Regions from separate parts of the Homo sapiens genome. Here all the other regions are linked to region 1. The links come from fine-mapping of genetic effects on gene expression. A gene starts in region 1. Each other region holds a variant in brackets. All regions are shown on one strand. Distances are from middle to middle.

Region 1 (8,103 bases):
AGGTCACAGAGCCAGCAAGAGCCACAGTTGAAATTTGAACCCAAGTTCTTCTTTCTCCCCACTCAGATCACCTGGGAGCCCTATTGGCTTGAGCCAGAGGAAGCTTCTGGTTGGATTCACTGACACTCAACCCCACTTGACTCAACCAGTAGCCAAGCACTTGGCTGAAGAGACACAGATGAATAGGGGTATTCCAACCTCACAGCAGATACTACTATTATTGCCAATTTACAGCTGAGGAAACTAGGGCCCAGGAAAGTAAAGAAACTTGCAAAGATCACACAACCAAACACTTGGCAGAACCAGAATGGAAACTGAGGTCTTCACTTCTGGCTGACCCAAAGATCCATGTTCTAGCATCACAACAGTGGTTCTCCAACCGGGTGCTGAGATTCTGCAAAGTGGGTGCCTGTGGGGAGCCACATAAGCAGGAGGGCTTCTATGCCACTCACCCGATTCAACAAGGATCCTGCACCTTTATCCATTTCACACCCCGGGGTTCTGCATAAGCAGACAAATGGATCTGCGACTTTAAGGGATTTGGGAAGTATCTGCCCTTGGGGCGACCAGGCAAACAACACCATGAATGGTTATTGCTCCCCCAGGCTTGGGGTTCTCTCCACCGTTTTGAAGCATTCACCCGATGCAAACTGCCCTCCACAACTGTGTCTTTCCCCTCCAGTGTACCTCTCCCTGTATTACATGTGCACATCTGTTTTTCCTGTCAGCTGTGTAGGCATTTTCAAGTAACGCTGATCTCTGGAAACTTGGCACCTAGCACCTAGCATGAGGCTGGCATGGGCTTGGCACACAGCTGGTGCCTAGAAAGTACTTGCTGAATGATTGTGTGAACAAATGAACTAATGGATGGGCAAGGTGGAGAAAGGAATGAAGTTGACCTCTGTAACAACTCTGGTAGGGATCTGGAGAAGGATTGGGTAGCTGATGGGACTGCCACGTGCTCAGCATGGGGATGGGGCCCAAAAACTGGTCTGGCAAGTACAGGACTTCACTGCAAGGCTGTTTGAAGTGCACCTCCAGGCCGGGCGCAGTGGCTCACGCCTGTAATCCAAACACTTGGGCCCAGGCGGGCGGATCACCCGAGGTCAGGAGTTTAAGACCAGCTTGGTCAACAGGGTGAAACCCCGTCTCTACAAAAACACAAAAATTAGCCGGCATGATGGCGGGTGCGTATAATCCCAGCTATTCAGGAGGCTGAGGCTGGAGAATCGCTTGAACCCGGGAGGTGGAGGTTGCAGTGAGCCGAGATCGCGCCATTGCACTCCAGCCTGGGCGACAGAGCGAGACTCCGTCTCAAAAATAATAAAATAAAGTGCACCTCCCTTCTTTCCCCCTGGCCAAGGCTCAGCAACCAGACTCCTGGGAGACCCCATTCCCCACCCTCGTCCACTCGCCCTCCGCGCCTTTTCGAGGTCCCGCTGCCCGCGCTGGCCCCGCAACCCCTCCGCCTCACCGACGTACCGGTTCCACCGAGCAGTGCGGGGATGCATCAGCCCCGTCTCTAGGGAGGGACGCTAGGCCGTTGCTAAGGGGCGGGGCCATCCGGCACCGCAGGGCGGGAGCTTCCGTCCGCGAACCTCCCCAGCCTGAACCCTTACCTACCCACCAACTCCAGGTCTCGGTTACTTCCGCCCAGGACAGTGGGACTGGGATGTTCCAGCATATGCCCCGATCGGCAGGATTAGGGCCGACCAGGGAGCGTCACTCTTCTAGGCTCCATTACCCACCCATCTTCCCTCCTGTGCCCTTTTAGAGTAAGCAGCGAAACAGCTAAATGCAGCGTGAGAACTTTGATTAAATCCTGATTTAAATACATATACATATGTAAATAATTTGGGGAGGAATAATTGAAGAAATTTACGAACTGGAAGTTGGCATTTAAGCCACAGCTGCGGGACAGCTGGTCAGGGCACTGAGGAAAAGGTGGGTTCTGGTTCTCCTGGGGCTTGGCTCACAAAGCCACACCCACCCATTGCACGGTGACTCCACTCAGGCCGCCGCTTCCGCTGGGCAGCGGATGCGCCCGACACCCCTCGGCTCGGGCGCCCACCCTCTGATGCCCCTCATCTGCTCTCAGCACCTGGCATGGGTTCAGGTTTTGATCTTCCTGCCCTATTCTGAATATTGAATTATTGTTAATTTTCTTAGATGTGATAATGCTACTGTGGTTGTATCAGACTGTCCTTAGTTGACGTGGCCTGAAGTGTTTGAAGAAACACGTCAGAATGTCCGCTACAATTTCCTTTCAAATGGTTCAGCAAAAATTATACATATAGGTAAGCATAGCTAGATAAAAAGACAAAGAGGAGATAAAGCAAAAGTGCTGCAATATAACAATTAGGGAATCTGAAGGTCACAGATGTCCATGTACTAGTCTTCCAATTTTTTCTGTAAGGGAAAGAAGTGGTTTACAAACCAAAAGAACCAAAAGAAAAACATCACCCCATCTGTACCTGAGAACCCCTGCCCACAGCCTTCTCAAAACTGGCCCCATTTCACAGATGGGGAAACAGACTTGCTGAGACGGTTAGTACTAGGGGAGGTCATAGGCCCTGATGTTGAATTTTACTTGGCATTTTAGTCGTGCTGGCTTGGTGCCAGGCCTGTTGCTGGGCACTAAGTGTCTGGAACTGAACTGGACCCTATCCCCACCATAAAGTGTATTGAGTGGGAAAGATGGAGAGGCCAGGCCATGAGGAACCTAGAGGCAGGGTGTAATCTATGCCTGGAGACAGTGGTTCAGCCCTTGCACAGGCTTCTGCTTCCTCTGTCTAGAACCTGTCTCCATCCACTCCTGCATCTGGCGGACTCCTACTCACCCTTCAAGACCTGATGGTGGTGCAACCTTTCCTGAATCCAAACTGTGGTTTTATTTTTCTTGTTGGCATTCACACAGGTACTCAGTGATCACTGCAGAAGGAAGAAAGGACTGTGAGGGGAACTGGAGGCAAGGTGTCCACAGCTCTTAGAAGGGACAAGGACTCCATAGCCCTGTTTAGGGCAGTCTGGCTGCTCAATGGGTCTGCGTATAGGTTGGGTACCCCCCTTGGCCTGTAGAGAGGCACCTGCTTCCCTGCTTTTGCCTGGCACTTCCCACACTAGGTACAGCTGTCCAAAAAGCTGCAGCATCTATCCGGGTTGCCATGGCAACATCAGCCTATGGTGGGATGTCAGGGATGAGAGGGGCAGAATGCTAATCCTGGAAAGTTGCCAAGCAACACAGTGGGCTGGTGACATCACAGGGGCTGTGGCTGCTGGACAGATGGACAGGCCACAGCTGAAAGGGTCCACTCTCAGGAGGCCCAGCTCACAGAACCACTCACTGCTTACCATGTGATGGTCACTGCTGTTTCTCCCAACTGGAGAATGGACTTGAGGGGTGGGGGTCGGGGGTGCTGCTTTTACCAGCAGCCCTGCCAGCTCCACTTCGCCCCTCTTCAAGGGCGGGCTGTGGATATGACTGCCTCCCTCCTCCCTGGAAGGACACCGTGAGTCAGTCCCTGTTCTCCTGGGTCTCAGGGGCTACCCTCTAATGTGCTGTCTTCTCCCATGGCTGCGCAAGGGTTCAGGCTTTGGTCTTCCTGCCCTGTCCTGAAGGCCACCATACTTACCTTGCTCCCTGGGAAAGGAGCAGGGGGCTGAGCCATGACCCACTGGACTCCTGCCCCTCTTGTGATGGGAGGGCCATCTTTTGCCCTGAATAAGCTGGAAGAGAGGTCAGCCTTACCCTTGTTGAAATGGGAGGACTAGGTTTCTACAAGAGTTGGGGAGTCACTGCCCATCTCTTACTCAGATCCCCCTTGCTGAGGACTCTGGTGGCCTGGAAGCTGGGGGATTGGGGCAGATGGGCTGCTTAGGATGCCCTGGCCCAGGGCCATGCCTTTCCAGCATGGAGTCTGAGGTCATGGCAAGTCTGCACACCCCCTCCCCTGTGTCTCCTTGCTGGCTGAGATGGGAGCAATGCTTCACTGGCTGCAGAGATGAAAGCCCCTTGTGAATGGGCAGCAGAATGGGCCCTTCATGTGGCTGGCCAGCCAGAACGGAAGGTGACAGGCATCCAGACTGAGTGGCTGAGCTACCCGCTCCCCACCTGTCCCCAGCCTCCCTCTTGGGCCCCCAGGATCTTCCTCTGATTTTCTAGGCCTGGAGCTCTGAGCTATGCCACAAGAAAGTGAGTTGCAGGCATCGGGGGCGGGGGGTGTCAGAGAAGGGAATGGGTGAGGTCTACGATTCACTGCCTCCCCAGGCCTCCCCGACATAAGCCTCCCTGCCATTGCTCAGCTGCCCTCAGCAGTTCTGACCAGCATAATCATTTCTTTGATGAATAAAAATGGAGAAAATTTAATTCTCCTTTGATCCACATGATCACCTTGACAGACAAGACCTTGAAAGCCCAGAGCTCAAGCAAGGAGTAGAACAGAGTTTCTCCGGGGCTGGTGGACTGAAGACCACTGGCCCATGAACAGACAATCTTCATCCATCACAGCCCCCACCTAATCCCCTGCCCACCTTTACTCCTGTGCAGCCTCCCTGCCGGAGCCTCTTCCCTCTTTGTTTTTCTATGATCTTCCATGCCATCTTGGGCTACTTCTCAGGACACACTCCCTGAGTGCCTTGGCCAACAGAACACACACTCTCCTCAGGGCCCCAGAGGACCATGGTCAGTACCACTTGGTAGATGACTCACTCCCTACCATGTGATGGTCACTGCTGTTTCTCCCAACTGGAGGGTGGACTTGATGGATGGGGTCAGGGGGTGCTGGGGCAGAGGCACAGCTTTTCTCAGCAGCCCTGCCCATGCGTCAGTCCAGGAAAGACCCATAGAAATGACTGGAAGATAGAGCAACCCACATCGGGGCCATCACCTCAAAGATAGTGGCTGTTGACACCAGCCCAGTTGCACATGACCCCACATGATCCCACCCTCACCTCCTCTCCCCCAGCCTATTTTTCTCTGACCTCCATCTGAGGGTGCAGGATGCTGAGGCTCTGCGCTCCAGGAGCAGCGGCCCAAGGGGGGGATGCCTGTTGGTCCCCACCTTCCTGGGCCAAAGCGCCAGATGGCAGGCTCTGAGACAAAGACATCTTCCACAGGACATTTCCCAGGGGGGCTCCAGGAGCTGCACAGGAAACTGTTTATTATAATTAGGCTCTGAGCACCTCTGATTTTTCCTCAGTCCCAAGGAGTTTGGTGAGCGTCAGCTGGAGTAATATCTTGGCAGAGTGGGTGACTTCATCAACTTGGCCCTGTGACCCACCAAGTGCCCCCACTCCCACCTTCCAGGGAGCCTGGGTTTGCTGAGGCTTAGCTGAGCCCTCCCATCCACTCATCCCCCAAGGCTGGCCACTTTGGGGACCAGACTGCCAGCCTGACCTTTCATCCACCCCTAGAAAGGGCTCTGGACGGGGCAGGAGGCCTGGATTATTCTGATGACTCACCGGGCAAGTCCCTTCCTTTGTTAGGCCTCAGTTTTTCTTCTGCACAATGAGGAACAGAAACCTTACCCAGTGTCACGGTGGGGTCATCAGTACAGAGTGGTGTGAGGGACACCAAGACTTTTCCTGCCCCAAATACTTCCATTCCTGGCAAAAGCACTGCCCTTGCCAGACCTCCAGGAGCGAATGTGTAAAAAACTCCCAGCAGGTCAGTAAGGAAGGGTTTGTTCCAAAGAGATGGAATCCCTCACTCCCAAAGAGGTGGGGCAGCCCTCCTCCCCATCACCCCTTGCAAATGGCCTGCCTGCTTTGGCCTAGGGACATTCAAACAGCTAGGGTGGCAGTTAGAGCTGACAACTTCCTTGGCAATCTGCTCCCATACTCTGGGTCTGCAAACTGAGGTGGCAAGAAAGGAGGGGCCTCACCCAAAGTCATGGCAGAGTGGGACAGGAACCTGGGGCTGTCCTGCAGGATATAGGGAGCCACAAGGAAAAGACCATGAGACAAAGACCCATTGCCATGAGAATCCCACTTCCCTTTACAGGAGGAGGAGGGGCATCTACCTGGCCTCACACTCCTCTCACTCTTTGTCCCTCCTCCACTCCACCATCCTGAGGTGGGGCATCAGGGAGCTGGCAGGCAGGCCTACCTTTTGCGCCAGACACTGATAGTTGCTAGAGTCTCAGTTTCCCTGTTTATGGAAGAACTGGACTGTCCATCAACAGGGCCCCCAGCCATCCTCCAGCTGCCCCCTGTGGAGCACTCTCCTCCTGCAGAGTACCCACCCCACTGTCTTTCTCTTTCCCCAGTACTCCTGATAGGCCACTCAAGAGCCTGGCACTGGCGAGGCGTGGTGGCTCATGCCTGTAATCCCAGCACTTTGGGAGGCCGAGGTGGGCGGATCATTTGAGTTCGGGAGTTCAAGACCAGTGGGCAACATGGTGAAACCCTGTCTCTACTAAAAAATACAAAAATTAGGCTGGGCATGCTGGCTCACACTTGTAATCCCAGCACTTTGGGAGGCTGAGGCGGGCAGATCACGAGGTCAGGAGATCGAGACCATCCTGGCTAACACAGTAAAACCCCGTCTCTACTAAAAATACAAAAAATTAGCCAGGTGTGGTGGTGGGCGCCTGTAGTCCCAGCTACTCGGGAGGCTGAGGCAAGAGAATGGTGTGAACCTGGGAGGCGGAGCTTGCAGTGAGCCGAGATCGCACCACTGCACTCCAGCCTGGGCGACAGAACAAGATTCCGTCTCAAAAAACAAAACAAAACAAAACAAATACGAAAATTAGCCAGACGTGGTGGCACATCCCTGTAGTCCCAGCTACATGGGAGGCTGAGGCAGGAGAACTGCCTGAACCCAGGAGACAGAGGTTCCAGTGAGCCGAGATCGTGGCACTGTGCTCCAGCTTGGGTGACAGAGAGAGACTCCATCTCAAAAAAAAAAAAAAAAAGCGTGGCAATACTGGGTCTCCTGCCCACTTCCTCTGTATCCTTGGAGGCCTCTGGAAAATGTCATCTCCAAACCTAAGCAGTGACTCTGAAGTGTACAGTAAGGACTCAGGTCTCCATGTGGTCCAACAGATGCGGCCCTGAAAATATGACCCAAGATACCCCCGTCTGTTCTCTTCCCAACCTGGCCTCAGCCCTCCCTCCAAGCAGAGAGAAACTGGCCCTTGCAGACCCTGAAGGCAGGATTGGATGCTCCCAGTTTTCAGGTGAGCAGACTGAGGTCCTGGAGCAAAGCCTTGTTTTGCAGGCACACACACTGCTGGCCAGGCAGAGCTGGCTTGGCAGCTGGACCCTCGGTCCCTGCCCAGGGCCTTCCCTGCTATCCCTCCTGGTTCCCCAGCCCTCTTGGCTGGCTCTCAGAGAAGGCAGGTGGGCCTGAGGATGGGCAGGGCCTGCCCTGGGGAGGGAGCTTGGGCTGGGAAGCAGGTTGGGGGGGCGGTGGTCAGCAGGTGCAGGATAATGGGGCCACTGGGGGAGGCCCAGGGAGCAGGTGCTGCCCATGGAGGGGCTGAGGTTGCCATTGTATGCCCGGCTTTGGCGGGCCCAGAGCAGGAGGGGGGTCCCTGTGGGCCGTCAGGCTGCCCTGGCTCATGCTCACAGGTCTCGTCCTGATGCCTGGGCTCAGGCACATAGCCAGCCCCTCCCCTGGGTCCCAGCAACCCCACCAGGTTGCCATGACAACCAGCACTTTCATCCCTGTCCCTTTGTCTGGTCACGGTCCAGCTTTTGTGACCAGCCATAATTGCTGGGTGGAGGGAAGGGGGCCTTGCGTCAGGATACACGCAGCTGGGGTTGAGTTGTGAACTCAGGCAAAGGAGGGCTGGAGGGCAGGTTAAAGAAAACTGGAGATGCAAAAAGGCTGGGCTTTGCTGGCATTTCCCCCTGCAGTCTCCTCTCCTGGCTGCTGGCCACATGCTCAGAACTGAGTCTGCTGGCCCCAGAGTAAACTGTCTCATCTCTGGGCCTCATTTTCCCATCTGTGACTGCAACTGCAGATGACCCCTCTCCCCGGGTGCGCCATTGCCCTGGGAGGCAAAAAAGCATGAGCCAACCCAGAACTTAACTCCTTTGTGCAACTGAGGAAACTGAGGCATAGGGCAAAGCTAGGCCCCGGTCCCGGTCACACCCACA
Region 2 (8,103 bases), 740 kb before region 1:
TCCTGCCCTGGCTTCTCCAAAAGGGCCATGAGGGTCATGAAGAATGCTCTTGCCTGCGCTGGATGCCATGTTGAAAATAAGCTATCACCCAGGTTTCACCCTAGAGAGGTCAATTCCAAGGCCTGGGGGTCAGGTAGGGTTGAGGGGCTATCACTTTATAGATATGTGTCTTTTTGTACTTCAACTATACTTCAGTAGTATAGAAAAACAGAAACATTTTCAATCATATTCATTTCATTAAAATACTATTAATATTTTAATATCATAATTGTCTTTAATATCATTTAATATAATAACATGATTTAATATAATATTTTATGAGGGGCAAAATGATTATACTTCTTTGGCAAACAAAATAATTTAAAAATAGTATTTATCTCCTCTTTACTTCTTCTTTTTAACATTTCTATATTTTGTGTTTTACAATATATGTAATGTTTTATTAGACTAGTATAAATATATTAAATAATATGATTTAAGTATTTTGGAAGGCATACATTCATGTAGGTACAATATTTTGAAGGCCAGTACAAAAGGGAACTCTTGAATCTCCATCCCCTGGGCATTCTATATGATTGAAATAATATGATTTACCTTGCAATAAAGGAGTAGTTTAACATTAAAGAAAAAAAGAGGCCGGGTGCAGTGGCTCACACCTGTAATCTCAGCACTTTGGGATGCTGAAGTGGGCAGATCACCTGAGGTCAGGAGTTCAAGACCAACCCGGCCAACATGGTGAAACCCCATCTCTACTAAAAATACAAAAATTAGCCAGGCGTGGTAATGACAGGCACACGCCTATAATCCTAGTTACTCGGGAGGCTGAAGCAGGGGAATCACTTGAAACCGAGAGGTGGAGGTTGCAGTGAGCAGAGACTGCGCCACTGCACTCCAGCCTGGGCGACAGAGCGAAACTCCAACTCAAAAAAAAAAAAAAAAAAAAGAAAAAAAAGAAAGAAAGAAAAAGGAAAAAGAAAAGGAATAATCTGATACATGTAGAAACATGGATGAATCTCAGAAACAAACAGGACGCCTGACACAGCAGGTCACACTTGTAAACTCAGCACTTTGGGAGGCGGAGGTGGTAGAATCACTTGAGACTAGAGTTCAAGGCCAGCTTGGGCAACATGGTGAGACCCCATTTCTATGAAAAATAAGAAAAGATGTAGTGATACATGCCTGTAGTCCCAGCTACTCAGGAGGCTGAGGCAGGAGGATCACTTGAAGCCAAGAGTTAGAGGCTGCAGTGCACAATTATTGCACCAATGAAGTGAGACCCTGTCTCAAAACAAAAAGGTAGACAGGGACTGGGGCTCACGCCTGTAATGCAAGCACTTTGAGAGGCTGAGATAGGTGGATCGCTTGAGGTCAGTAGTTCAAAACCAGCCTGGCCAACATGAGAAACCCTGTCTCTACTGAAAACACACACACACACACACACACACACACACACACACACACACAAATTAGCTGAGTGCTGTGACTCACACCTGTAATCACAGCTACTCGGGAGGCTGAGGCAGGAGAACTGCTTGAACTGGGAGGCAGTGGCTGCAGTGAGCTGAGATGGCACCACTGCATTCCAGCCTGGACGACAGAGTGAGACACCGTCTCGAAAACAACAACAACAACAACAACAACAACAACAACAACAAAGAAAAAAGCAACCAGACAGGATCGCTACTTGGAGGAGCTGAACAAAAAATAATAATAAAAAACAGACAGAGAGTATTGCTCTATGATGAAATTTTTTTCTTGTCTTTTCTTGTCTTTTCTTTCTTTATTCTTTTCTTTTTTTTTCTTTTTTTCTTTTTCTTTTTTTTTTTTTTTGAGTCAAAGTCTCACTCTGTCACCCAGGCTAGAGTGCTGTGGCACAATCACAGCTCACTGCAGTCTTGACCTCCAGGCTCAAGTGATCCTCGCAGCTTAGCCTCCAGAGTAGCTAGGACTACAGGCTTGGGCCACCACATCTGGCTAATTTTTAAATTTTCTGTAGAGATGGGGTCTTGCTATGTTGCCCAGGCTGGTCTCGAATTCCTGGCCTCAATCAATCCTCCCCCCTCGGCCTCCTAAAGTGCTGGGTTTACAGGCATGAGCCACTGTGCCCGGCCTATGATGAAGTTTATAAAAACAGGCAAAAGTAATCTTGAAACTAGAAATCAGATCAGTGTTTGCCTATGGGTGAGGGGAGTCATTAGAAGGCTCTGTGTTGGCCAGGAGCGGTGGCTCACGCCTGTAATCCTAGCACTTTGGGAGGCCGAGGCTGGCAAATCACTTGAGATCAGGAGTTCGAGACCAGCCTGGCCAACATGGTGAAACCCCGTCTACTAAAAATACAAAAATTAGCCGGGCATTGTGGCACGTGCCTGTGATCCCAGCTACCCAGGAGGCTGAGGCAGAAGAACTGCTTGAACCTGGGAGGCGGAGGTTGCAGTGAGCCGAGATTACAACACTGCACTCCAACCTGGGTGACAGAGAGAGACTCCCTTAAAAAAAAAAAAGAAGTCTCTGTGTCTTCGTGGTGGTGGTTACATGGGCTGCACCTCTGTGAGCACTCAGAGAACTCTACACTTATATAATAGGTATATGTATATATATATATATATATATATATTTTTTTTTTTTTTTTTTTTTTTTTTTTTTTGAGACAGAGTCTTGTTCTATCGCCCAGGCTGGAGGCCAGTGGGGTGATCTTGGCTCACTGCAACCTCCATCTCCTGGGTTCAAGGGATTCTCATGGCTCAGCCTCCCGAGTAGCTGGGATTACAGGCGTGTACCACCACACCTGGCTAATTTTTGTATTTTTAGTAGAGATGAGGTTTCACAATGTTGGCCAGGCTGGTCTCAAACTCCCAACCTCATGTGATCTGCCCACCTCAGCCTCCCAAAGTGTTGGGATTATAGGCGTGAACCACCGCACACAGCCCAAAATGGGTATATTTTATTGTATGCAAATTATACCTAAAAAAAAAAAGTATTGTAAAAAAATCTTGGCCACACTCATGCCTGTAATCCTAGCACTTTGGGAGGCCAATGCGGGGCAGATCACTTGAGCTTAGGAGTTTGAGACCAGCCTAGGCAACATAGTGAGACCCCCATCTCTAAAAAAATACGAAAATTAGCCAGGCATGGTGGCACGTACCTGTAGTCTCAGCTACTTGGGAGTCTGAGGTGGAGGGATCACTAGAGCCTGGGAGATCAAGGCTGCAGTGAGCCATGATTGTGCCACTGCACTCCAGCCTGGGTGACAGAGCAAGAGCCTGTCTCACAAAAAAAGCAACAAAACAAAATAAAACAACAACAACAACAGCAAAGCGCCATCTGGGCCACATTTGACACAGGGCCTACCAGTTTGTGTCCTCTGTCCCAGTCACTGTATACATTCCTCATACAATTTTTTTTTCTTTTTCTTAGACAAGGTCTGGCTCTATTGCCCAGGCTGGAGTGCAGTGGCATCATCTCAGCTCACTGCAACCTCCACCTCCCAGGTTCAAGCCATCCTCCTACCTCAGCCTCCCAAGTAGCTGGGACTACAGGTGTGCACCACCACACCTGGCTAATTTTTGTATTCTTTGTAGAGGTGGGGTTTCACCATGTCGCCCAGGCTGGTTTCAAACTCATGAGCTCAAGTGATCCACAGAGGGAGACAGAGCGAGACTCCGTCTCAAAAAAAAAAAAAAAAAAAAAAAAGACACTCCAACCTCCAACCCAAAGAACTGCTCCCTCTTTTTTCCGGTATTGCTGAGCGTCCTTGGTCACTTATTTGGTGCCTGTGACCTCTTATTAGCGGATAAGAAGTTGAAGGTGCAAAATAATTTAAGAAAAATGCATGGCTCAATAACATAAAATTGGAACACTGTGCCCATTAATATATTTTCTCCAAGAGAAGCGGTCTTTGGGGATGAATG[G/C]GGACATAATCCTGGGCTTGTGGCACTCAAGGATAGAAAACGGGGTCAAGAGGGCCAGTGCCTGTTCTGTGGTAAGCAACTGAGGAAAAGCAAGCTAAGTGCTTTAGGAAGACAGAGAAAGAAGGGGAGCAATCTTGGGAGGCCTCCTGGAGGAGATGGCTTTGAGGTCAGGACAACTATTTCTCATCATTCTGTTGTGCTTTACAGTTTGCAAAGAATGTTTATACACATTTTGTTCTTGGATTCCTATGACCCAGCAAAGAAGCTGATTTCCTCCCCATTTTACAAAGATGAGGAAACTGAGCCCAGAGTGGTGAAGGGTCCCATAGAAGGTCTCATAGAGAAGCAGTGACTAACTCTGAACTTGACTCCAGCTGTCTGCCTCCACACCCATTGTTTTTTCCCTGACAACACAGCGTAGGTGAGAAGGACACCTGGTGGAGCAGGGTTTGCAGGAGCCAAGACATGGAGGGAAGCAGGGCAGGTGTTACAGAGAATGTGGAGTCATGGTCTGTGCTCCCGAGGCAGCAGGGCCAGCATAGTCAGTTGGACCTCAGTGAAGAATGGCATGGGGTGAGCAGTGACTCTACAGTGGGGATCACCTGATTGCTTGGGTAATTAGCCACAGGGAGTCATTATGTGACTGGCCTCATTTGGATTGACTGAAGGAAGCTGGCTGGTCAGGTCAGTGGCAATGGAGGGCCGCTGATCACTGACAGCAGGCCTGGCTGGCTTGTGGAATTTCATTCAGTTCTTCATGGGTTGAAAACAGCATGATGTCCTGGCCAAGGGTTCTGCCAGTCCCCAGGGTCCAGGCCTGGCCCTCAGGTTCTCATCCAGTACAAGGCCCCAGGTTGATGCCCACCTGCAGAAAACAGGCCTGCTTCATGGGCAGGCAAGGCCTCAGGGCATAGGGGGTTCATATAGAATGGTTGAACACTGACCCCTTGGTCAATGATGACAGAGGGTTACAACCCCTAACCCATGAAGCCAGCAGGAAGTGGAGACTAAGTTGGGAATGCCCAGGATGCCTCCTGGGTGTGCCAGCCTCTGGTCTTGGATGCTGCCAAATGACCCACTAGCCACCCTCTTGTCTTCCCACTGCCTCTTGGGGAAAGGGCTGACCTCATGGTTATGGAGACAGGCATGTCTTTGTGCTCAAGGGGACTGATGTCCATCTGTGGGATTACAGGGGGGACAGAACCCAAATAAATGACAAACAAATGCAGGTATAAATTAGAAATATCACCACTGGGGAGAGAGAGAACCTGTTCAGATGGGGTGGGCAGGGAAAGCCTCTCTGAGGAGACCATCTTGTTAAGCAGATACTGGAACAATAAGGTGTCACCTATGTAAAGGTGGGTGCAGGAAGTGGGATGGGGAGTGTGCCAGTGGGAAGGACAGTGACATACCCATGAAATGGAAAGGAGACAGGTGCAGCTAAAATACAGCAAGCAAGGCAGGTGAGTAGGACAGCTGAATGGGACAGGTGAAGGTGGGCCAGGCCAGTCTTTTTTTTTTTTTTGAGACACAGTTTCGCTCTTGTCACCCAGGCTGGTGTGCAATGGCACGATCTTGGCTCATTGCAACCTCCGCCCCCCCCGGCTTCAAGCAATTCTCCTGCCTCAGCCTCCCATGTAGCTGGGGTTACAGGCGCGCACCACCACGCCCAGCTAATTTTTTGTATTTTTAGTAGAGATGGGGTTTTGCCATGTTGGCCAGGCTGGTCTTGAACTCCTGATCTCGTGATCTGCCCACCTCAGCCTCCCAAAGTGTTGGGATTACAGGTATCAGCTACTGCGCCAGGCCAGGGCCAGTCCTTTTTTTTTTTTTTTTTGAGACGGGGGTCTCACCCTGTCGCCCAGCCTGGAGCGCAATGGCGCCATCTCAGCTCACTGCAACCTCTGCCTCCCAGGTTCAAGTGATTCTCCTGCCTCAGCCTCCCGAGTAGCTGGGATTACAGGTGTGTGCTACCACACCCGGCTAATTTTTTGTATCTTTAGTAGAGATGGGGTTTTGCCATGTTGACCAGGCTAGTCTCGAACTCCTGACCTCATGATCCGCCCACCTTGGGCTCCCAAACTTTTGGGCTTACAGGCTTGAGCCACCGCACCTGGCCCTGGTGCCTTATAGGCCAAAGTGAGGCTTTTGGACTTCTGCAAAGTGCAATAGAGAACCTTGAAAGGCTTTCAACTGGGGTGAGTCATGACCAGAAGTCAGTTTTCCATAAGTTACCCCTCGTTCCGTGCGCCTCTGGGGCTGCATCTTCGGTCAACAATCCCCAACTCGAATTTCCCAGTAGCGTGGTTGAGAAGCTGGCATGCCAGGTTTGTGGCTAAGTTTTGCTTCTCTTTAAGGATGACCTGGAAGCTCTCAGTTTGCTCTTTGTCCGTAGGGAATGTTACGGCCTGTCCTAAAGGATGTTGCAAGAGTTAAAGGAGATTCTGTCCAACTGCACATGTGCATACCCACACCCACATCTACACAGTGTCTGACACAAGTCAGATGTGCAGACAGTTTTAAACTGTTCCTTGAGTTCTCTGTTCTTCTTCCTTAGGGGTCATGAAGGTGAGCACTGGAGAAAGGCAAGAGAGTTTTACAATATTTGAATAAATTGAAAGATAGGACCGGACGTGGTGGCCAGCGCTTTGGGAGGCTGAGGCGGGTGGATCACTTGAGCCCAGGAGTTCAAGACCAGCCTGGGCAACATGGCAAAATCCTGTCTCTACAAAAGATACAAAAATTAGCTGAGCATGGTGGTGCACACCTGTAGTCCCAGCTACTCGGGGCTGAGGCGGGAGGACTGCTTGAGCCTGGGAGGTAGAGGCTGCAGTGAGCCATGATAGCACCATTGCACTGCAGCCTGGGTGACCGAGTGAGACCCTCTCTCAAAAAAAATTTTAAAAAGGCTGGGTGCGGTGGCTCACACCTGTAATCCCAGCACTTTGGGAGGCTGAGGCGGGTGGATCATAAGGTCAGGAGTTCGAGACCAGACTGACCAACATGGTGAAACCCCGTCTCTACTAAAAATACAAAAATTAGCCGGGTGTGGTAGCGTGCGCCTGTAATCCCAGCTACTGAGGAGGCTGAGGCTGGAGAATCGCTTGCACCCAGGAGGCAGAGGTTGCAGTGAGCCAAGATTGCACCACTGCACTCCAGCCTGGGTGACAGAGCGAGACTCTGTCTCAAAAAAATCATTAACAATAGCTAACATTTACAAAACTTTTACTATGTCCTAGGCGTTGAGCTTGTGAGGCAGCTGTTAATCTTTTTTTTTTTTTTTTTTTTGAGTTGGAGTCTTGCTGTCACCCAGGCTGGAGTGCAGTGGCACGATCTTGGCTCACTGCAAGCTCCGTCTCCCGGGTTCACGCCATTCTCCTGCCTCAGCCTCCCGAGTAGCTGGGACTACAAGCGCCCACCACTACACCTGGCTAATTTTTTTGTATTTTTAGTAGAGACAGAGTTTCACCATGTTAGCCAGGATGGGCTCGATCTCCTGACCTCGTAATCTGCCCACCTCGGCCTCCCAAAGTGCTGGGATTACAGGCGTGAGCCACTGCGCCAGGCCAGAGGCAGCTGTTACTCTTATCCTAATTTTACAGACCAAGACCTGAAGGCCCAGAGGGGATAGATAAGTTGCCAAGGTCACAGGGCTGGTTGTTGAACCTGGATGGTCCGTCCTCAAAGCCAGTCCTCTTAACCCTTATATGATTATCCTAGGATGTGTAGAGACACATAAACCAGTGTGGATATCAACTGATAATCTGAAAAAAGAAGACCTCATAAGGGCATGAGAGGGAATCAAGCCTTTTCATATGTTAGAACCTATTCCAAAGAACCAATATTTAGATTCATATGGTATTTGCTCAAACTGAGGTCTAAGGAAGGAAATGGAGAATTCAGAAATATATTAATCAAAATAGAAAGTCTAGCGTAAAAGTAGATTTTACTAAACAAAGGAATTTTTTTTTTTTTTGAGTTGGAGTCTCGCTTTGTCGCCCAGGCTGGAGTGCAGTGGCGCGATCTCAGCTCACTGCAAGCTCGGCCTCCCAGATTCACGCCATTCTCCTGCCTCAGCCTCCGGAGTAGCTGGGACTACAGGCGCCCGCCACCATGCCTGGCTAATTTTTTTGTATTTTTAGTAGAGACGGGGTTTCACTGTGTTAGCCAGGATGGTCTCAATCTCCTGACCTCG
Region 3 (8,103 bases), 110 kb before region 1:
AAATATTGTGTTTTATATGAAAGCTCACAATTAAAAAATGTTCCTGTTACTTGCAGAGCTCTGACAAAATTTCCCTGGACGCCCGGATAAGCAAGGATAGCATTGGGTGGTCAAACCCAAGAGAAAGGAAATGAAGAAAAAGGGCATAATTGTGGGAAGCCCTAGGAGGACAGCTGTGCAGGAGCTCTAGGAGCAGCCAGCACTGGAGGCGGCGGCTCTGGGAGGCAGGTCTTCAGGAAAAGAAGTCCAGCTGATAGTGATCTGATGCCTGGTCTATGAGGAAAATTGCATTTTGAGACATTTTGTTGATCATTTGCAACATTTCAGAAGAATTAGCAATAGGTATATACCAAAAAAGAAGCAATTATTAATTTCAGAAAAAAACATTGTACAAAAGAGGAAAGGTAATCATAGTGTACTGCCTGGCTCAGTGGTAAACAGTATTTCTAGCATCATAATAATATAAACATTGAAAGTTAACAAAAATTGTGATACAATTATCTGAGGTGAACGAAAACGGGAAGATTATGTTTTTTTAATTTAATTTTGAGACAGCGTTTTGCTCTGTTACCCAGGCTGGAGAGCAGTGGCGCGATCTCAGCTAACTGCAACCTCCACCTCCCGGACTGAAACGATTCTCCTGCCTCAGCCTCCCAAGTATCTGGGATTATAGGCACCCACCACCGTGCCCGGTTAATTTTTGTATTTTTAGTAGAGATGGGGTTTCACCATGTTGGCAAGGCTGGTCTTGAACTCCTGACCTTAAGTCATCTGCCCGCCTCGGCCTCCCAAAGTGCTGGGATTACAGGTATGAGCCACTGCGCCCGGCCACCTTGCCTAATTTGAATGTCCTGGCATGCAAATTCATATTTAAACTCTGGACGGAAATGCTCGAACCACCGGGCAGTGAGGGTTTGACTGGGCTCACTCATGCTGTGGAGGTGTGCTGAAGCCCACACCAGTCAGGAGAGAATGGAGTCCCTTATGCCCCATGTATAAGCATGGTAGTCCTTGACCTGTTTGAGTCCAGGACCCCAAGCCTTGCAACAAGGGCCTATTCTCCACCCAGTGTGGACTGCTATGCTGGCTCACCTCCCTAATGAGAACCTGTGTACTTATTATTTGCACAATGATTGATGAAGATTCTCTACCTCTGTAATGCCAATTTCCGTATAAACAGGTTTCTTTCCCTCCAAAGAAACATGTCTATATTCTAAGCTAAAAGTTCTACATTAATTCCCTAAATTTTATGGATTAGGAGGGTGAGTTTTCTTACTCTCGTACTCTACCCCGTAGAATCTTTACTACCCAGACAAATTTCAGAATGAATTTATAAGGAGACACCAATGGAGAGAAAACCTTTATTTGCATAACAACAAACATGGGTGAAGTAAGAAGAGGCATATGAAAACAAGATTAAGGTGGAAGAATCCTTGGTGGGAGGAGAGGAGGAGAAAGCAGAGGCACTCTTGTAGCCATAAACGCATTTCCTTGTTGGCATCTGGACTGCTCCCTCCTCATGCTCCACTGAGACTTCTCTTTGCTTGGCTCATAGTCTCACTGCTGGCCCTGCTTCCTTGTCTCACAGTCCCAGAGTGCTCCCTCCCCAAACCCGATGGAGGAGCGCAGCTTCATACCCTATTGTGTGGGACAGCAGCTACTCAGAAGGTGTTACTTGGATTTTTTGCAGCTGTTAGTGATTCTGACACCCTTGGACCTCCAGGAGTAGCTCCTCCTGCCACGAGAGGACTCTGGCTTTTCTAATAAGGAAGGTTCTGGCCAATCAGTCCAAGAAAGGCCCGGATTCTCTTCCAAGGTGTTGTCTCTGCAGAAATGTTCCTCAGGGTGGAAGGTGCTGCTGCAGCAAGGGATGTCCCCTGAGTTTTCAGGTATGTAGTCTGGTGAGAGAAAGGCAGGAGAGGAAAACTCAAGCCTCTGCTTCTCCCAGGCACAGGTCCTTAAGCTCCTCTCTAGCTACTTTCCTTCCAAAGTCAAAGGCACCAACTATTAATCCCCCTCTGGTGGGATGTCTTCCTCCTTTCCCAGGCACCACAAGTCCCTACAGCCCCCTCCTTGCTCTGAGGCCGGCCCATCCCTCCAGCCTCACCTGTGGCTGCAGCAGGTGAACACTCCTCACACTCCCATTTCTTACTGTTAGATCTAAGAGAGGAGCAGTCCCTGTGGGTTCCGTGGGATCCGCATGTAGCACACAGAATGAGGCACCACCTCCTAGAGGAAGAGCCCAGGAAGGGTTGTGGAGACATACAGAACACCAACTGCCATGCTTGGATGTTTGCTATGGGCCAGGCATTTTTTACAGCACATTTTACCCAAGATGAATGTATGGCTCAGAGAGGATGAGTGCTGATCCCAGAAGCCTGCCATCAGTCGTAACCCCTTGAAAGGTAGATTAGGAAAGGAATTGGCTCTGAATGTCTCTCCACTGGGCACAAGGTGAAGCGGACCTTGCAGGGGAGACGTGTTCACGTGCACACAAGTGAGTCGGGCTGGTCAAGAATGAGACTTAGCAATCGTGTTTATCCTAAGGTCTGCATACAAGAGTGAATTTCTTACTTCTAATAACTGTGCCAAGGTCTAACTCTAAGATAGCACTGATGAGAGCTCTTTCTAGCCAGAAGCCTTCCCCTACCCTTCATCCTCAAAGCTGTCTCTGCCTTGTTCATACAGACAGATGGGGGCATCACAGTGCTGATAGCGCTGATATAAGTCTGAGAAAGCCCCTGGCTCGAGTTCCCAGGCAGCATCTCTGCAGTGGGAGAAGAAACAGTGAATAAGAACATAATGGGTTGGTGAAACTTTTGTCCATCAGGGAGGAGTTAGGAAGAGCCCAAGCTAAGCACAGCAAGAGTTCAGTAGGCTGCCTGAACACTTCCAACAAGGCTGGCCAAGTGGCCTGGCAGTGGGAGAGGGTTGAAGCAGGATGAATGGAACATGCATGCAGGTTCCTTAGTTCCACTCTGGAATCCAATAACTCAACCCCCCAGGGAATTCTGATTCCCCAAATGCCCTTTTCAGCAACAAGCACCCCATTCCCCCGCAAACTTCTTCCCCCTCCCTTCTGTTTTGATAATTGAAAAGCACTCCCTCCTCCCCTTCCTTCTTATCAGTGCCTCTGCTGCTCTCATTCTCTGAACTATCCTCTCACTCACCTCCTCTCTAGAAATCTAGGCAACCCACTCCCTGGCTCAGTTCCTGCTTTGGGGTTCCCACTACCTGTCTGGAATATGAATTCCCATTCTCAGCATTTCTTGAGGAAACTCTTTTCGATTGTTACACTGTGGACATTTGAAGAAATGCTTTGCTGATGTGTGGGCATATTTCTGTAAGAGAAACAGGGAAGAGCTCTGTGTTTGTAAAAACCCTTTGACTACCTTCTTTCTCCTCCCACCCTCACCCCTACAAAGAGGATGTTGCTAAGAGAGTTTGAGGGTACAGGAAAAGGAGTTTGGGTGGGCTAGGGTGAGGGCTGCAAATCCAGGTGTCAGACCTGGGACCAAAATACTTTCAAGAGAATTCCCAGGAGTGCCTCAGCTGTCATCTCTGACCATGGGGCTCGGCAGTACTGAGTAGGGGTCAGCCACCTGGATACATGTTTCCCTTTTCTTTCATCCCAGGAAGTGAGGCTGACATAGAGGCTTCTCAGCTCATTCTGGGATGAGCCCATTTGCTCTAGCAATGCTGAAGATTTTGCTTATTCTAAATCTTATCATGTGTGAGGTCCTATAGGCCAGGAATGACCACAGACTGGACTGACTTTCCTCTAACTGCCTGAAACCAGCCCTCAATACAGGCCTCCAGCATGGAGCACCAAAGCTGAGGCACACCTGAGCATTCCCAGGGTTCTCTGGTTCCAGGCAGAGAACTAGGGCAATGGTGGAAGGGACCCAGGGCGGAAAAAGCCCCACCTGTATGCACTTGCGGTGGTAGATGGCTTGACTACAACACGGGCTCTGGATGTTCTCAACACTCTGTTGGGATAAGTCTTCACAACATAAGATGCAGCTTTCCTCCCCCACATGCCCATGTTGGATGTTCTGTGTTGGGCGATGTTTGTCACAAAATGATCTGTGGCAGGTAAACAGACTTGGTTTCTGGTTTGTCATTGATGTAGTTTCCCAATGGCCCGCTCTAGGAGGGGCAGCCAGCCACCCAGGCTGGTGCCCAGTGAACCTCCACACATGGGGAAGAGGAGAGGCAGAGTGAAGAACTGCCACATGCCTTCTCACGGCTGCTCACCTACTGAGCAAAGTTCCCAGGACTGTCTCCATAGCCTCTCGTTCCTGAAAGCCCCACTTAGTGCTGAGCAGCTGTCTAAGAACCCCAGCTGTTTGTAATTTAAGGAGGGGTCAGGAAGCAAGAAGAACCCCCTGTGAAATCTCCAAGTCAAGACACTGTTTCTTATTACTGAATGGAGGGACAGATTCACTGGTGAATCAAAACAGGCCTGCTTGTGAGAACTGGACTCTGATTTCATTAGTGGCTGAATAATAAGTTGCAAAAAGGAAGCCAGACTTTTCCCTTCCCTCACTCACTTGTACTCTCCAAAAAATTGTGAAAGGCAACCCCTTTCTTGGCCACAAGGCAGATGGAAGTTTCTGAGGCACTGATCCTTCTGGCAGTTGATAGCAGCTCCCTTTTTCTTGCACACAAAGCAGATCTGCAAATGAGTTCCCAGACAGTGCTCAGGACCCCAAGAAATGCAAACACACACAGTGTAGCACATCTTTCTATTAAATGGAAGTTTTGTGAAATAATAGCCATTCCCTATCTTCAGTGGTCCTGAATGCTCTGGGGCACCCGGAAGCTGAGCTTCAAGCAGCACTGAGTTCTTTCCTATTTTCTCAAGATGTTTCTCCCTCTTCTCACTTAGGACACCCATACCCCAGAGGAATATGGGACTTAAGGACTAGTTGGAAAATCCA[A/T]GAGTCCTTTGACATCTAAACTAGGAAGTAGGGAAGAGAACAGAAACAGGAATGATGGGTGAGGTATGAAAAGAGGCCTACCCCAAGGTCCTCATTTCAAGAGATTCTAACCTTCCTAGAAGCCCGGGCTGCCTCCTTTTTGATGTCTTCAGGCAGAAATCCATGGAAGCCTCTGTTGGACTGGCCCCTCTGAGGCAGCTTACTAGATAAGATCTGCGGGGGCAGTAGAACCAGGCTGTTAACAATGATGATCAGTGAAACAGTGCAGTGAGGTGAGGAGAAGGACAGGGTAAGAGAGCTAAAGAATAGAGCTTGGGCCGGGTGTGGTGGCTCATGCCTGTAATCCCGGCACTTTGGGAGGCCGAGGCGGGCGGATCACGAGGTCAGGAGATGGAGACCATCCTGGCTAACACGGTGAAACCCCATCTCTACTAAAAATACAAAAAAATTAGCCGGGTGTGGTGGCACGCACCTGTAGTCCCAGCTACTCAGGAGGCTGAGGCAGGAGAATGGCGTGAACCCGAGAGGGTGGAGCTTGCAGTGAGCCGAGATCGTGCCACTGCACTCCAGCCTGGGCCACAGAACAAGACTCTGTCTCAAAAAAGAAAAAAAAAAAGAACAGAGCTTGGTGGAATATATATGCATTGACAGGGTAATTTATTTAATGAAGGCTTACATGGCACCAACCATGTGTTGAATACTCTAAGTGGTTTCAAATATTAACTCATTGAGTCCTCCCAACAGCCCTAGGAGGTAGGTACTATTATTGTCCTCATTTTATAGGAGAGATGATGCGACCTGCTCAAGGCCACAGAACTCTGGAACCTGGACTCTTACTTTTGCTCTAGGCTGCCTCTCACTTACTGAGGGCTGCTATTGTGTGCTGGGACTTTGGGGGAAACATTTCCTTTGTATTTACTCATTTTATGCTTACAATCCTTGGCCAGGCACGGTGGCTCACACCTGTAATCCTAGCACTTTGGGAAGCCGAGGAGGGCTGACCATCTGAGGTCAGGAGTTCGAGACCAGCCTGGCCAACATGGTGAAACCCTGTCTCTACTAAAAATACAAAAACTAGGGCATGGTGGTGCGCGCCTGTAATCCCAGCTACTCGGGAGGCTGAGGCAGGAGAATCGCTTGAACCCGGGAGGCGGAGGTTGAAGTGAGCCAAGATCAGGCCACTGCACTCTAGCCTGGGCGACAGAGCAAGACTCCGTCTCAAAAAAAAAAAAAAAAATTCCTGTAATGGCAGATGCTATTATGATGCTCATCTTACAGAGGAGGCCGCTGAGGTGCAGTGTGGCAAGTGACACTGCCTCCCAGGGTTATAGGACAAGGAGGAGCAGAGCTGGCTATTCACACCCAGGCCCATGGAATCCCCATTCTTACCCTTCCTGCTGCATCACCTCTTAGTACAGAGAAAATACTCTTCTCAGAGTAATACAGGAAGAAAAACAGGGTTTTAATATCTCTTGATTGTTGTTGTTCTGTATTATGGGGGAAGGAATTGAACTTTTGAAACACATATTTTAAAACTAATTATCTCAGGGCTTTGGGATGAGTGATTTGTTTTCTTCATATTTTTAAGTATCATTCATGTTTTCTGCAATAAGCATGTATTGATTTAATAAATTAGCTACTAAAAAGAAAAAACTATATCTATATGTTCTATACAGAAAGATTTCCAAAATATATATGATGGAAAAAAGCCAAGATACAAAGCACTCTGTATAATGTTTAATTTTTATGTAAAAAATGTATATGCTTGTAAATACATCAAAATTATAACTAAGCCCTGACACCTGATAGGACTTACAAGAAAGGAAAATCACAGACCAATCTTTCTCATGAGCACAGATATAAAAATCAAAACAGATGCAAACTGAATCCAGCACCATATAAAAAGGACAATACATCATGACCAAGTAGAGTTTATACCAAGAATGCAAGACTAGTTTAACATTAGAGCATTTAGTTGATGTAACAAACTACATTAACAAAATTAAAGAGAAAAATCAAGATAATCTCAATAAATACAGGAAAAGTGAGAAAATTCAACACCCATTCATGATACTCTGGGCAAACTATATATGAATAAAAGGGATCTTCAACCTGATAAAAACATCTATGAAAAAAACCTAGAGCTAACATACTTTAATAGTGAAAAACTAGATGCTGTCCCCTGATGTTGGGAACAAGACAAGGATAACAACTCACACCACTTCTATTCAATGTTAGGTTAAAGGTCCTAGCCAATACAACAAGGCAAGAAGAAATAAAAGGCAAAGATTGAGAGAAAGAAGTAGAACTGTCTTTATTCACACATGACATGGTTATGTGCATAGGGAATCCTGTAACAAGGCATTTACAACAAAATAAAAAAACAACTAATCAAACTCAATTTAACAAGATTACAGGATACAAATCAATATACAAAAATAAAATGCATTTCTATATACCAGCAATAAACTTAAAAATGAAATAAAAATACTATTTACAATAGCATAACCACAGAATATTTAGGAATACATTTAACAAAAGATGTACAAGACTTTGTCACCAAAACAACAAAACATTGCTGAGATATATTTTAAAAGACCCAAATAAGTGGAAAAATATACCATGTCCATGGATTGGAAGGTTCAATATTTTTTGTCAATTCTTCCCAAATTGACCTATAAATTCAATGCAATCCCAATCACAATCCCAGTAGACTTTTTTTTTAAAGAAAAATTGACAAGCTTAATATAAACTTTATAAAGAAAGGACCTGATAGTCAAAACAATCTTGGAAAAGATTGTAGAACTTAACAATACTGAATTTCAATATACTATAAAGCCACAATAATCAAGACAGTGGGGACTTGTGTAAGAATAGATACATAGATCAATGACATAAATAGATTATCCAGATCCACAGATATATGGTCAATTGATTTTGACAAAGGCACCAAGGCAATTCTATGGGTAGGTAAAGATTTCTTGCAACACACAAAAAGCACTGACCATAAAAGAAAAAAATGGATAAACTGGGCTCCATTACAATTACAAACTTGTTCTTTGAAAGACACCATTAAGAAAATGAAAAGGCAAGCCAAAGACTAGGAAGAAAATAGTCTCAATACATATATTTGAAAAAGAATTTGTATCTGAAATATATA
Region 4 (8,092 bases), 28 kb after region 1:
GTGTGACAGGTGGGATGGGGGCAGGCAGCAGAGCTGAACCCCCACCTCTCAAGACAATGAGGGTATCAGGTAGAGGGGCTATCCCAACCCAGGGAACCAGGCAAGCAGGGGTGACAAGCCCACATTAGAAAAAGGGGGCTGGAAAGGTGGGGTTAGGGTGCCCCCCTGTGGATATGCAATATGTGTACAGTCACCACATCCTGGCCACCTGAGGTTGCCCCTGCCTTGGGGTACCCCAGGTCCCAGTAGGCACCGGAAGAACTAACTACTCCTTAAGAGACTAGAACAGGAGGCAGGGCAGGGGGCACACAATGGAAGATCAAGGAGAGGACTCCATGAGGTCTGAGGGCCTAGCCCCAGGTGACATTAGTACAGACAGCAGCAATAGCAGTGACATTTTCCAAGGACTCTACGGATGTGTCAGGCCCTGCATTATGTGCTCCCCATGCACCCTCTCACTGTCACCGAAAAGGTCAGCTCAGGGGGAGGACTCCACAGCTCAGGGGAGGCCAGACGACTAGCCCAAGGCAACCCAGGAGTCACCATCCAGGCTCCTCACCACCTCCCTTGCTCCTAACTTTACCCTGTGACCCCGGGGGCTCAGACCTGATCTCTCGAAGACCTGAGAGATCAGGTGGTGCACCCCCCACCAACAGTCTTGGGCCAATGTGGTACCACACCTGAGATCAGCACGAGCAGCAGGTCATCAGCTGTGAGTCCCTCAGCCAGTTGCTGGATGGCCAGTGCAGCCCGCAGCGCATCGCGGTCCGGGAGGTTGTCCTCCGCACCCTCGAATACCTGGACACGGCTATGTGGCTTCAGCAGCATCTCCCTGGGGAGGGAAAGGTCAGCACGCAAGAGATGGGGTGGACTCCTCTCCTCCCACCTGATCTCTCAACTTTACAGGTGATGGGGGCATGAACGAAGATGCCCACTGACATGCATCCTGGGGCCAGGCCAGATCCAGGAGAAATGGGAAGCGGGTGGGGAGGGGAGGCCCGATTCAGCCTGTGTCTGGGCCCAGGTTTCCCTCCAGATAGATAGAGGGAGGCAGGCCCCCATGGCTCCTTACTGCTTGCCGGCACGCTCCATGGCAGCACGGATCCCCTTGGGAACGCTGATCACGCCCTGCACAAGATGCTGGCCCAGTAGTTCCTCAGCTGCAGCTGCCATACCCAGCACAGCCTTGCCAAAGCCCACCAGGTAGAGGTTTTGCCTCAGCTGAAAGTTCCGGTCCCGCACCTTCAGCTGTCTGCCACCAGGGTCCAAGGATAGTGCCCGGTGCAGCATGGGGCCCGGCAGCACTGCACCTACAGCACTCTCAAACAGCTGCCTGGCCTGCTCTGCCAAGGCCATGCTGCTGGCCAGACGGGCCACTGAGCCCCGCCAGAGGAGTGGATGCAAGGGGGCTCGGGCCAAGCGGGGCAGGACCTGCAGGGCTGCAGCCATGCCCCACTGCTCTCAGCACTGCCTGGCACCCATGGCTGCCTAGAGGGAAAAAGCACAACTGAGGCCCTTGCAAGGCAAAAGACAGGAGGTCCCCCACGGCCGCCCCTCTGAGGGCTCAGGGCCAGTGGACCCCACAGCTGCTGCTACAAGAAGGAGCCATCTGATAGCCCCAGGAGACTTCCTGAAGCCTGCAGCTGCAGGATCTTACTCGTCCTTGGAGACCAGCCCTGCCACCCAGCCACGTCCTCCTCTTCTGCAGACCACATGCCGGCCCTCTGGATACTCTGCCTCAAGTCCAAAGTTCCTATTAGCTGGGCCCTCCTCCCAGGTCACCCCTTTGGCTGGGAGTTAATCATTGACAGAGGGAGTAATTTCTACCAGTGGGCTCCCATCCCACCCCTTTTCCACCCCCTGCACTTCTGCGCTGTTACCCTGGGGCAACGCCCCTTTCTGGCACTCCTTCCTTGCCTCTTTACCACCTCTGCTGCCAGGAAGCTGTTGATTGTCCCACCAACTGACCCTGAGCCCATTGACCTCCAGTCTTCTCTATTTCATTATCTCATGAGACTGGGATTAGGAGCCTGGGAAGTCAGGGTCTATAGGAGGCTGCAGGTTTATCAGGTCAAACCCAGAACACATCCTCAGGGCAAGCAATCTGAGGAATCTCAGTATGCAGGACCAGTTCAGCAAGAGGTTTAGGTTCAAATCAGGAGTGAGGGCAAAGTCTGGCTCATGGTGGAACCTTAGAAAAGTCCCCAGGCACCATGTGAGGCCATGTGCCATGAAGCCCAATTGCAGGACAGAAAAGGATGCCCTTCTACCCACACAGTTGGCCAGACCCAACCCTGCCAAGAACACGCCTTCTGGTTCCAAGATAACAAAAACAAGTCCTAGGTCACACCACCCACAGTGGTGAGAGCCCAAGGGCTGAAGTAGGCAAAGGCCAGGCTCCCATAACTGAGCCCATAGCCATTTTCCCCACTGGGCAGAGTAAAAGCTAAAGAAGCCTTGGGGCGAAGGTCAGGAAGCTGTAGAGGGGTATAGGAACAACAAAGACCCAAACAGCTCATCTGTACTACATATGTACTATTGCATCTACTTTAATAAATGCCTACCATAAATGTTGCAAGCTGACTTCATCAGCAAGTATGGACTGAGCAGGGTAAGGAGGCTGGGAATTGAGGTTCCAGCTCTACTATAGGCTTTCTGAGTGGCTGGGACACCTCCATTTCTCTCACTGGGCCTCATCCGCAAAATGAGACATGGGGTGAGATTAACACTACGCTCTTCCCTTAACAACCTCAGGCTCTCTGATACTGTCCACTGCAACACAGATCTCAAACACCGGTTTACCCCACACCCAAATATGGTGGTTACTTCTAGACTTTGACCATTTTGCTTGCCTAGTTCTCAGCTCTCCGGTAAGAAAAGACAGCCATGCCTGACTTCTGTTGTGAAAGGGAACACAGAGGGCATCGTCATGGGGATTCCGAAAATGGGTCCAGTTTTGGCCAGGGGGACCCCTGGAGCTTGCCCATTGGACTTGGAGCTAAAAGCATCTTAGCAACTAAGACAGCCGGTCTTTATAGCCTGGATGAAATTTGTATCTATTTCCCAGATGGACAAGAGCCTAGAAGATCCCAGCCTTGCCACTGGGTATGAGCACAGGACAGGGGGACGCTCAATGCTAAGGCTGCCAGAGAAAATACAGGACTTCCGGTTAAATTTGAATTTCAAATAAACAAGTAATTTTTAAAGTATAAGTATGTGCATACAATGTTTAGGACTTAACAATTATTCGTCGTTTATCTTAACTCAAATTTAACTGGACGTGGCCCGGCGCAGTGGCTCACGCCTGTAATCCCAGCACTTTGGAAGGCTGAGGCGGGCGCATCACCTGAGGTCAGGAGTTCGAGACCAGCCTGACCAACGTGGTGAAACCCCGTCTCTTCTAAAAATACAAAAATTAGCCGGGTGTGGTGGGCGCCCGTAATCCCAGCTACTCGGGAGACTGAGGCATGAGAATCATTTGAACAGGGGAGGCGGAGGTTGCAGTGAGCCGAGATCGCGCCACTGCACTCCAGCCTGGGTGACAGAGTGAGATTCTAACTCAAAAAAAATGTAACTGGACGCTTTGCATTTTTATTTGCTAAGTCCTCCAATTCTATCCAAGACACGGTCTCTCCGAAACTCCGGGAGGCTCCAGAGCAAAACAACGGAAATAGGAAGACTACCGGTCTTGACTCCTCCCCGCCATCAAAGAAGGCTGGTACCATTTCCGGCTTTCCCTAGACAGTAGGGGGCCGGAAGTGACGTCATCCTAAGGTAGGGCCTTAGCGAGGGAAATGGCTGCCGCGTAATGCCCGGTGATGCGAGAAAGAAGGGCCTGCTGCCACCAGGACCCGTCATCGCCCAGCCCAGGGACCGCTTCTGAAGGCCATGCGAGCCCTGGCGGCGCAGACTTACCAGCCCACAGCTCCGGCCGCGGTGCCCAGCGCTGGAGAACGGAAGTACTAGGGGGTGGGCGGAGCGGAAGCCGGAAGTGTGGG[T/G]GGGTGGAGCGGCGCAGGCGGGTGCGAGCTCTGGCTGAAGCCGGTGTCCGGGAGGGGAGAGTTTAGCATATTGGCTCTTTGCTGGCCACTGACAGACCTGGAAGGAGTCACCTTCAGTCCTCATTTTTTAAATCTCTACATTGAGGGTAATAATCCCCGCCTCACCGATTGCCGATTTTTTTTTTGAGACGGGGTCTCATTCTGTCGCCCAGACTGGAGTGCAGAGTCGCGGTTTCGGCCCAATGCAACCTCCGCCTCCCGGATTCAAGCGATTCTCATGCCTCAGCCTCCCGAGTAGCTGGGATTACAGGCATGTGCCACCACTCCGGGCTAATTTTTGTATTTTTTAGTAGAGACGGGCTTTCGCCATGTTGCCCAGGCTGGTCTCGAACGCCTAACCTCAAGCGATCCACCCACCTCAGCCTCCGAAAGTGATGGGATTACAGACTTCAGCCGCCGCACCCGGCCTCTCCCTTCCTTTATCCTGTACGGTCAGTCAGCAGATGCACCCTGAGTGTCAGGCACTGACTGGGCTGAGCAAACGAACTGAGAATCACTACTTCCCCACAACTCACCCCTTCTGGAGCCAGATTAAGTAATTCCCGCTCCTCTCCATGGCTTTTATTCCACAACTTATTATTGTTCTTCCCTCTCCCACCATGGGCCACCAAATACAGCTCTGGCTTAGCAAGAGTTCCATTCTGCGATCCTCAAGCACATAAGCGGCATGTAAACGCTAATGACTCTGGGCCTACCTCGCTGTCCCTACTCTCATCCGGGGCCTACCCTGTGTTGGCTGGATGCCTTCCCACATTCATAAGATGAGTCCTGATCAGACTCCAAAAATACAAAACAGTTCACTGTTTTTACTGATGTTTTCTTAGGGAGATAGAGGAGAGAGTTGCATCACAAATCACACACTTGATTTCCTAACAATTTTATTGAAACATGTTTCTTGGCAGGGCGCAGTGTTTCACGCCTGTAATCCCAACATTGGGGAGGCCAAGGTGGGCGGATCGCTTGAGCCTAGGAATGCGAGACCAGCCTGGGAACATGGCGAAACTTATCTCTACCAAAAAAAAAAGAGCCAGGTGTGGTGGCATGCTCCTGTAGTCCCAGCTACTCAGGAGGCTGAGATGGGAGGATCACCTGAGCCTGGGAGGTAGAGGCTGCAGTGAACCTTGATCACGCCACTGCACTCCAACCTGGGCCCCTGTCTCAAAAAAAAACCAACAAACAAAAACACATTTCTTTCTCTTGGTTTTGAGGTGGAGTCTTGCTCTGTCACCCAGGCTGGACTGCAATGGCACAGTCTCAGCTCACGGCCACTGCACTGCAGCCTGGGCACGATGTCGGCTCACTGCAACCTCCGCCTCCCAGGTTCAAGCAATTCTCCTGCCTCAGCCTCCCGAATAGCTGGGACTACAGGCGCCCGCCACCACGTCCAGCTAATTTTTGTATTTTTAGTAGAGACAGAGTTTCACCATGTTGGCCAGGCTGGTCTCGAACTCCTGACCTTGTGATCCACCGCCCTTGGCCTCCCAAAGTGCAGGGATTACAGGCGTATAAACAATTACAGGCGCCCGGCCTATATAAACAACCTTCATCTTTCCCCATGCTGGAGAACACTAATTGCCACTGCTTGGTGTCTGTGTTTCCCTGGATGGCTGCCCTCACACTTTATGCTTGAATAAATTCTTTTAACTGGATATCGAACCTTTTGATGATTTTTAGGTTGACATTAGAAATGTGTTTTTGGGACAGGTGCAGTGGCTCATGCCTGCAATCCCAGTACTTTGGGAGGCTGAGGCAGGTGGGATCATTTGAGGTCAGGAGTTCGAGACTGGCCTAACCAATATGGTGAAACCCCATCTCTACTAAAAAATACAAAAATTAGCTGGGCATGGGCCGGGCACAGTGGCTCACACCTGTAATCCTAGCACTTTGGGAGGCTGAGGCAGGTGGATCACCTGAGGTCAGGAGTTCAAGACCAGCCTGGCCAACATGGCGAAACCCCGTCTCTACTAAAAATACAAAAATTAGCTAGGCATGGTGGTGTGTGCCTGTAATCCCAGCTACTGGTGGGGCTGAGGCAGGAGGATTGCTTGAACCTGGGAGGTTGCAGTGAACCGAGATTGCGTGACTGCCCTCCAGCCTGGGTGACAAAGCGAGACTCCGTCTCAAAAAAAAAAAAAAAAAAGATTGTTTATATAGGCAAAAACAGGAGTGCTGACCAGAATTACAACATTTTCCAAAAAAAGGCTAACATAAATACAAGATTTGGTTGGCTACTATTGATTATACTGGAAGGAGTTTGCTTAACATTCTATTGTAAAGAGACAACAATCACAAGGGTCTCTATCTCCCACATCATCTAGTCTAAGTCTGAATGAAGAATAGGGAGCCTGGTTAATGTATAACATTTCAATACAAAGATCAGGAAGCAGCAGTCATGCATCAGAGAAGAAAAAAAAAAAGCAATGCCTGCTCAGTTTCCAGGGCTTCACTTTTCTCCTTCACATTATAAATTGGGAATGTCCTAAAATTTTATTTTCTTTTCACACCCCCTACCTGCTCCCTTTGGCAGTTGCTACATCTCTCCTTAGGTCTCCAAACCATGCTGTGCTCTTGTCATGAACCTTTCCCTTCCTCTGGCCCCCACTTCCAGCTCTCTCCCTGGATTTTTCTTTTTCTTATATATACATATATTTTTATTTGAGACAGGATCTCACTCTGTCACCCAGGTTGGAGTTCAGTGCCATCATCTTGGATTATTGCAACCTCCACCTCCGAGGCTCAAGTGATCCTCCCACTTCAGTCTCCCAAGTAGCTGGGACCACAGACGTGCACCACCACACCCAGCTAATTTTTTGTATTTTTTGTAGAGAAGTGGTTTTGCCATGTTGGCCAGGCTGGTCTCAAACTTCTGCGCTCAAACCATCTTCCTGCCTCTGTCTCCCAAAGTGCTGGGATTACAGGTGTGAGCCACCACACCCGTCCTTCTCCCTGGATTTTTCCTTTTAAAATATGAGACTTTGTATTCCTTCTCCTAAATGATTTCCCACCACATCATCAAAACAAAGGCATCCGTAGGTGGAATTGCCCTCTTTAATGTGGGAGAGGTTGTAAATACTGAAAATTTTATTGTTTTTTCTTGGTTATAGTCAGCTATATTCCTTCCATGCATTTATTCCTTCCTCAGACATAATTCAAGACATTTCCTGAGTGCCTTCTGTGTGGGCCGAATGCTGTAGCTGCTGGGATAGGTAAGAAGTGGTACTTTTAATTTTAATTTTTTTTTGTTTTTAGGAGACAAAGTCTCACACTGTCGCCCAGGCTGGAGGACAGTGGTGATTACAGCTCACTATAGCCTCAACCTCCTGGGTTGTAGCGATCCTCCTGCCTCAGCCTCTCAAGTAGCTGGGACTACAGGTGCACACCACCATGCCTGGCTAATTTTTTGTGGAGACAGGGTCTTGCTTTGTTGCCCAAGCTGGTCTCAAACTCCTGGGCTCAAGCAGTTCTCCTGCCCCAGCCTCTGAAAGTGCTGGGACTATAGGTGTAAGCCACTGTGCCCAGCCTGGGCTTGCAGGGTTACTCCGTGGGAGGGAAGGTCAGCTGTGTTGGAGGCAGGGTAAAGTGGAGCTGTGTCCTATGTAAGGGCTGTACAACACCTTAAAACTGGGAGGCCGAGGTGAGCGGATCACTTGAGGTCAGGAGTTTGAGACCAGCCTGGCCAACATGGCAAAACCCCGTTTCTACTAAAAATACAACAACAACAACAACAACAACAACAACAACAAATTAGCCGGATGTGGTGTCACGCACCTATAATTCCAGCTACTCGGAAGGCTGAGGTGGGAGAATTGCTTGAACCCAGGAGGTAGAGGTTGCAGTGAGCTGAGATCACACCACTGCACTCCAGCCTGGGTGACAGAGTGAGACTCTGTCTCAAAAAAAAAAAAAAAAAAATTAAAAAAAATAAAACATCTTAAAGCTATTTTTCTTGGAAGGAGGAGTTGGGGAGAGTAAAACAAAACACTAGGAAGCAGTTCAGCATGACTCTAGGCAAGCACTGATGAGAGGCCACTAAA

The links. PIP is the estimated chance that this variant, and not a neighbour inherited with it, causes the effect.
Region 2: its variant is fine-mapped to the expression of DNAH1 in blood mononuclear cells (TOPMed, PIP 0.98).
Region 3: its variant is fine-mapped to the expression of DNAH1 in whole blood (INTERVAL, PIP 0.95).
Region 4: its variant is fine-mapped to the expression of DNAH1 in whole blood (TOPMed, PIP above 0.99). The same link has a PIP of 0.9 or more in tibial nerve.

Annotation. Positions count from the first base shown.
Region 1 is chr3:52,311,283-52,319,385 of GRCh38, reverse strand. It overlaps DNAH1 (dynein axonemal heavy chain 1), which reads right to left and starts at 3,067. Exons shown (of 78, transcript NM_015512.5): 1 at 2,841-3,067. RefSeq lists a silencer at 1,447-1,676 and enhancers at 1,615-2,553, 5,370-5,569, 7,850-8,103.
Region 2 is chr3:53,048,404-53,056,506 of GRCh38, reverse strand. No RefSeq gene overlaps it. Among named protein-coding and RNA genes, the nearest start is that of SFMBT1, 6.4 kb to the right of the region's middle. The variant G/C (reference allele first, on the strand shown) is at 3,909.
Region 3 is chr3:52,416,886-52,424,988 of GRCh38, reverse strand. It overlaps PHF7 (PHD finger protein 7), which reads right to left. Exons shown (of 11, transcript NM_016483.7): 5 at 5,055-5,156; 6 at 4,554-4,678; 7 at 3,927-4,086; 8 at 3,235-3,341; 9 at 2,651-2,767; 10 at 2,108-2,229; 11 at 1,348-1,898. The coding sequence ends at 1,672. Among named protein-coding and RNA genes, the nearest start is that of PHF7, 10 kb to the right of the region's middle. The variant A/T (reference allele first, on the strand shown) is at 4,944.
Region 4 is chr3:52,283,700-52,291,791 of GRCh38, reverse strand. GLYCTK (glycerate kinase) reads right to left here and starts at 3,964. Exons shown (of 5, transcript NM_145262.4): 1 at 3,916-3,964; 2 at 1,073-1,488; 3 at 681-832; 4 at 1-45. The coding sequence starts at 1,449. It overlaps GLYCTK-AS1 (GLYCTK antisense RNA 1), which reads left to right and starts at 2,059. Exons shown (of 1, transcript NR_046719.1): 1 at 2,059-3,212. It overlaps LOC107986086 (a long non-coding RNA gene), which reads left to right and starts at 3,772. Exons shown (of 3, transcript XR_001740699.2): 1 at 3,772-3,959; 2 at 7,201-7,264. RefSeq lists enhancers at 893-1,393, 4,197-4,306, 3,133-4,332, 3,638-4,379. The variant T/G (reference allele first, on the strand shown) is at 3,999.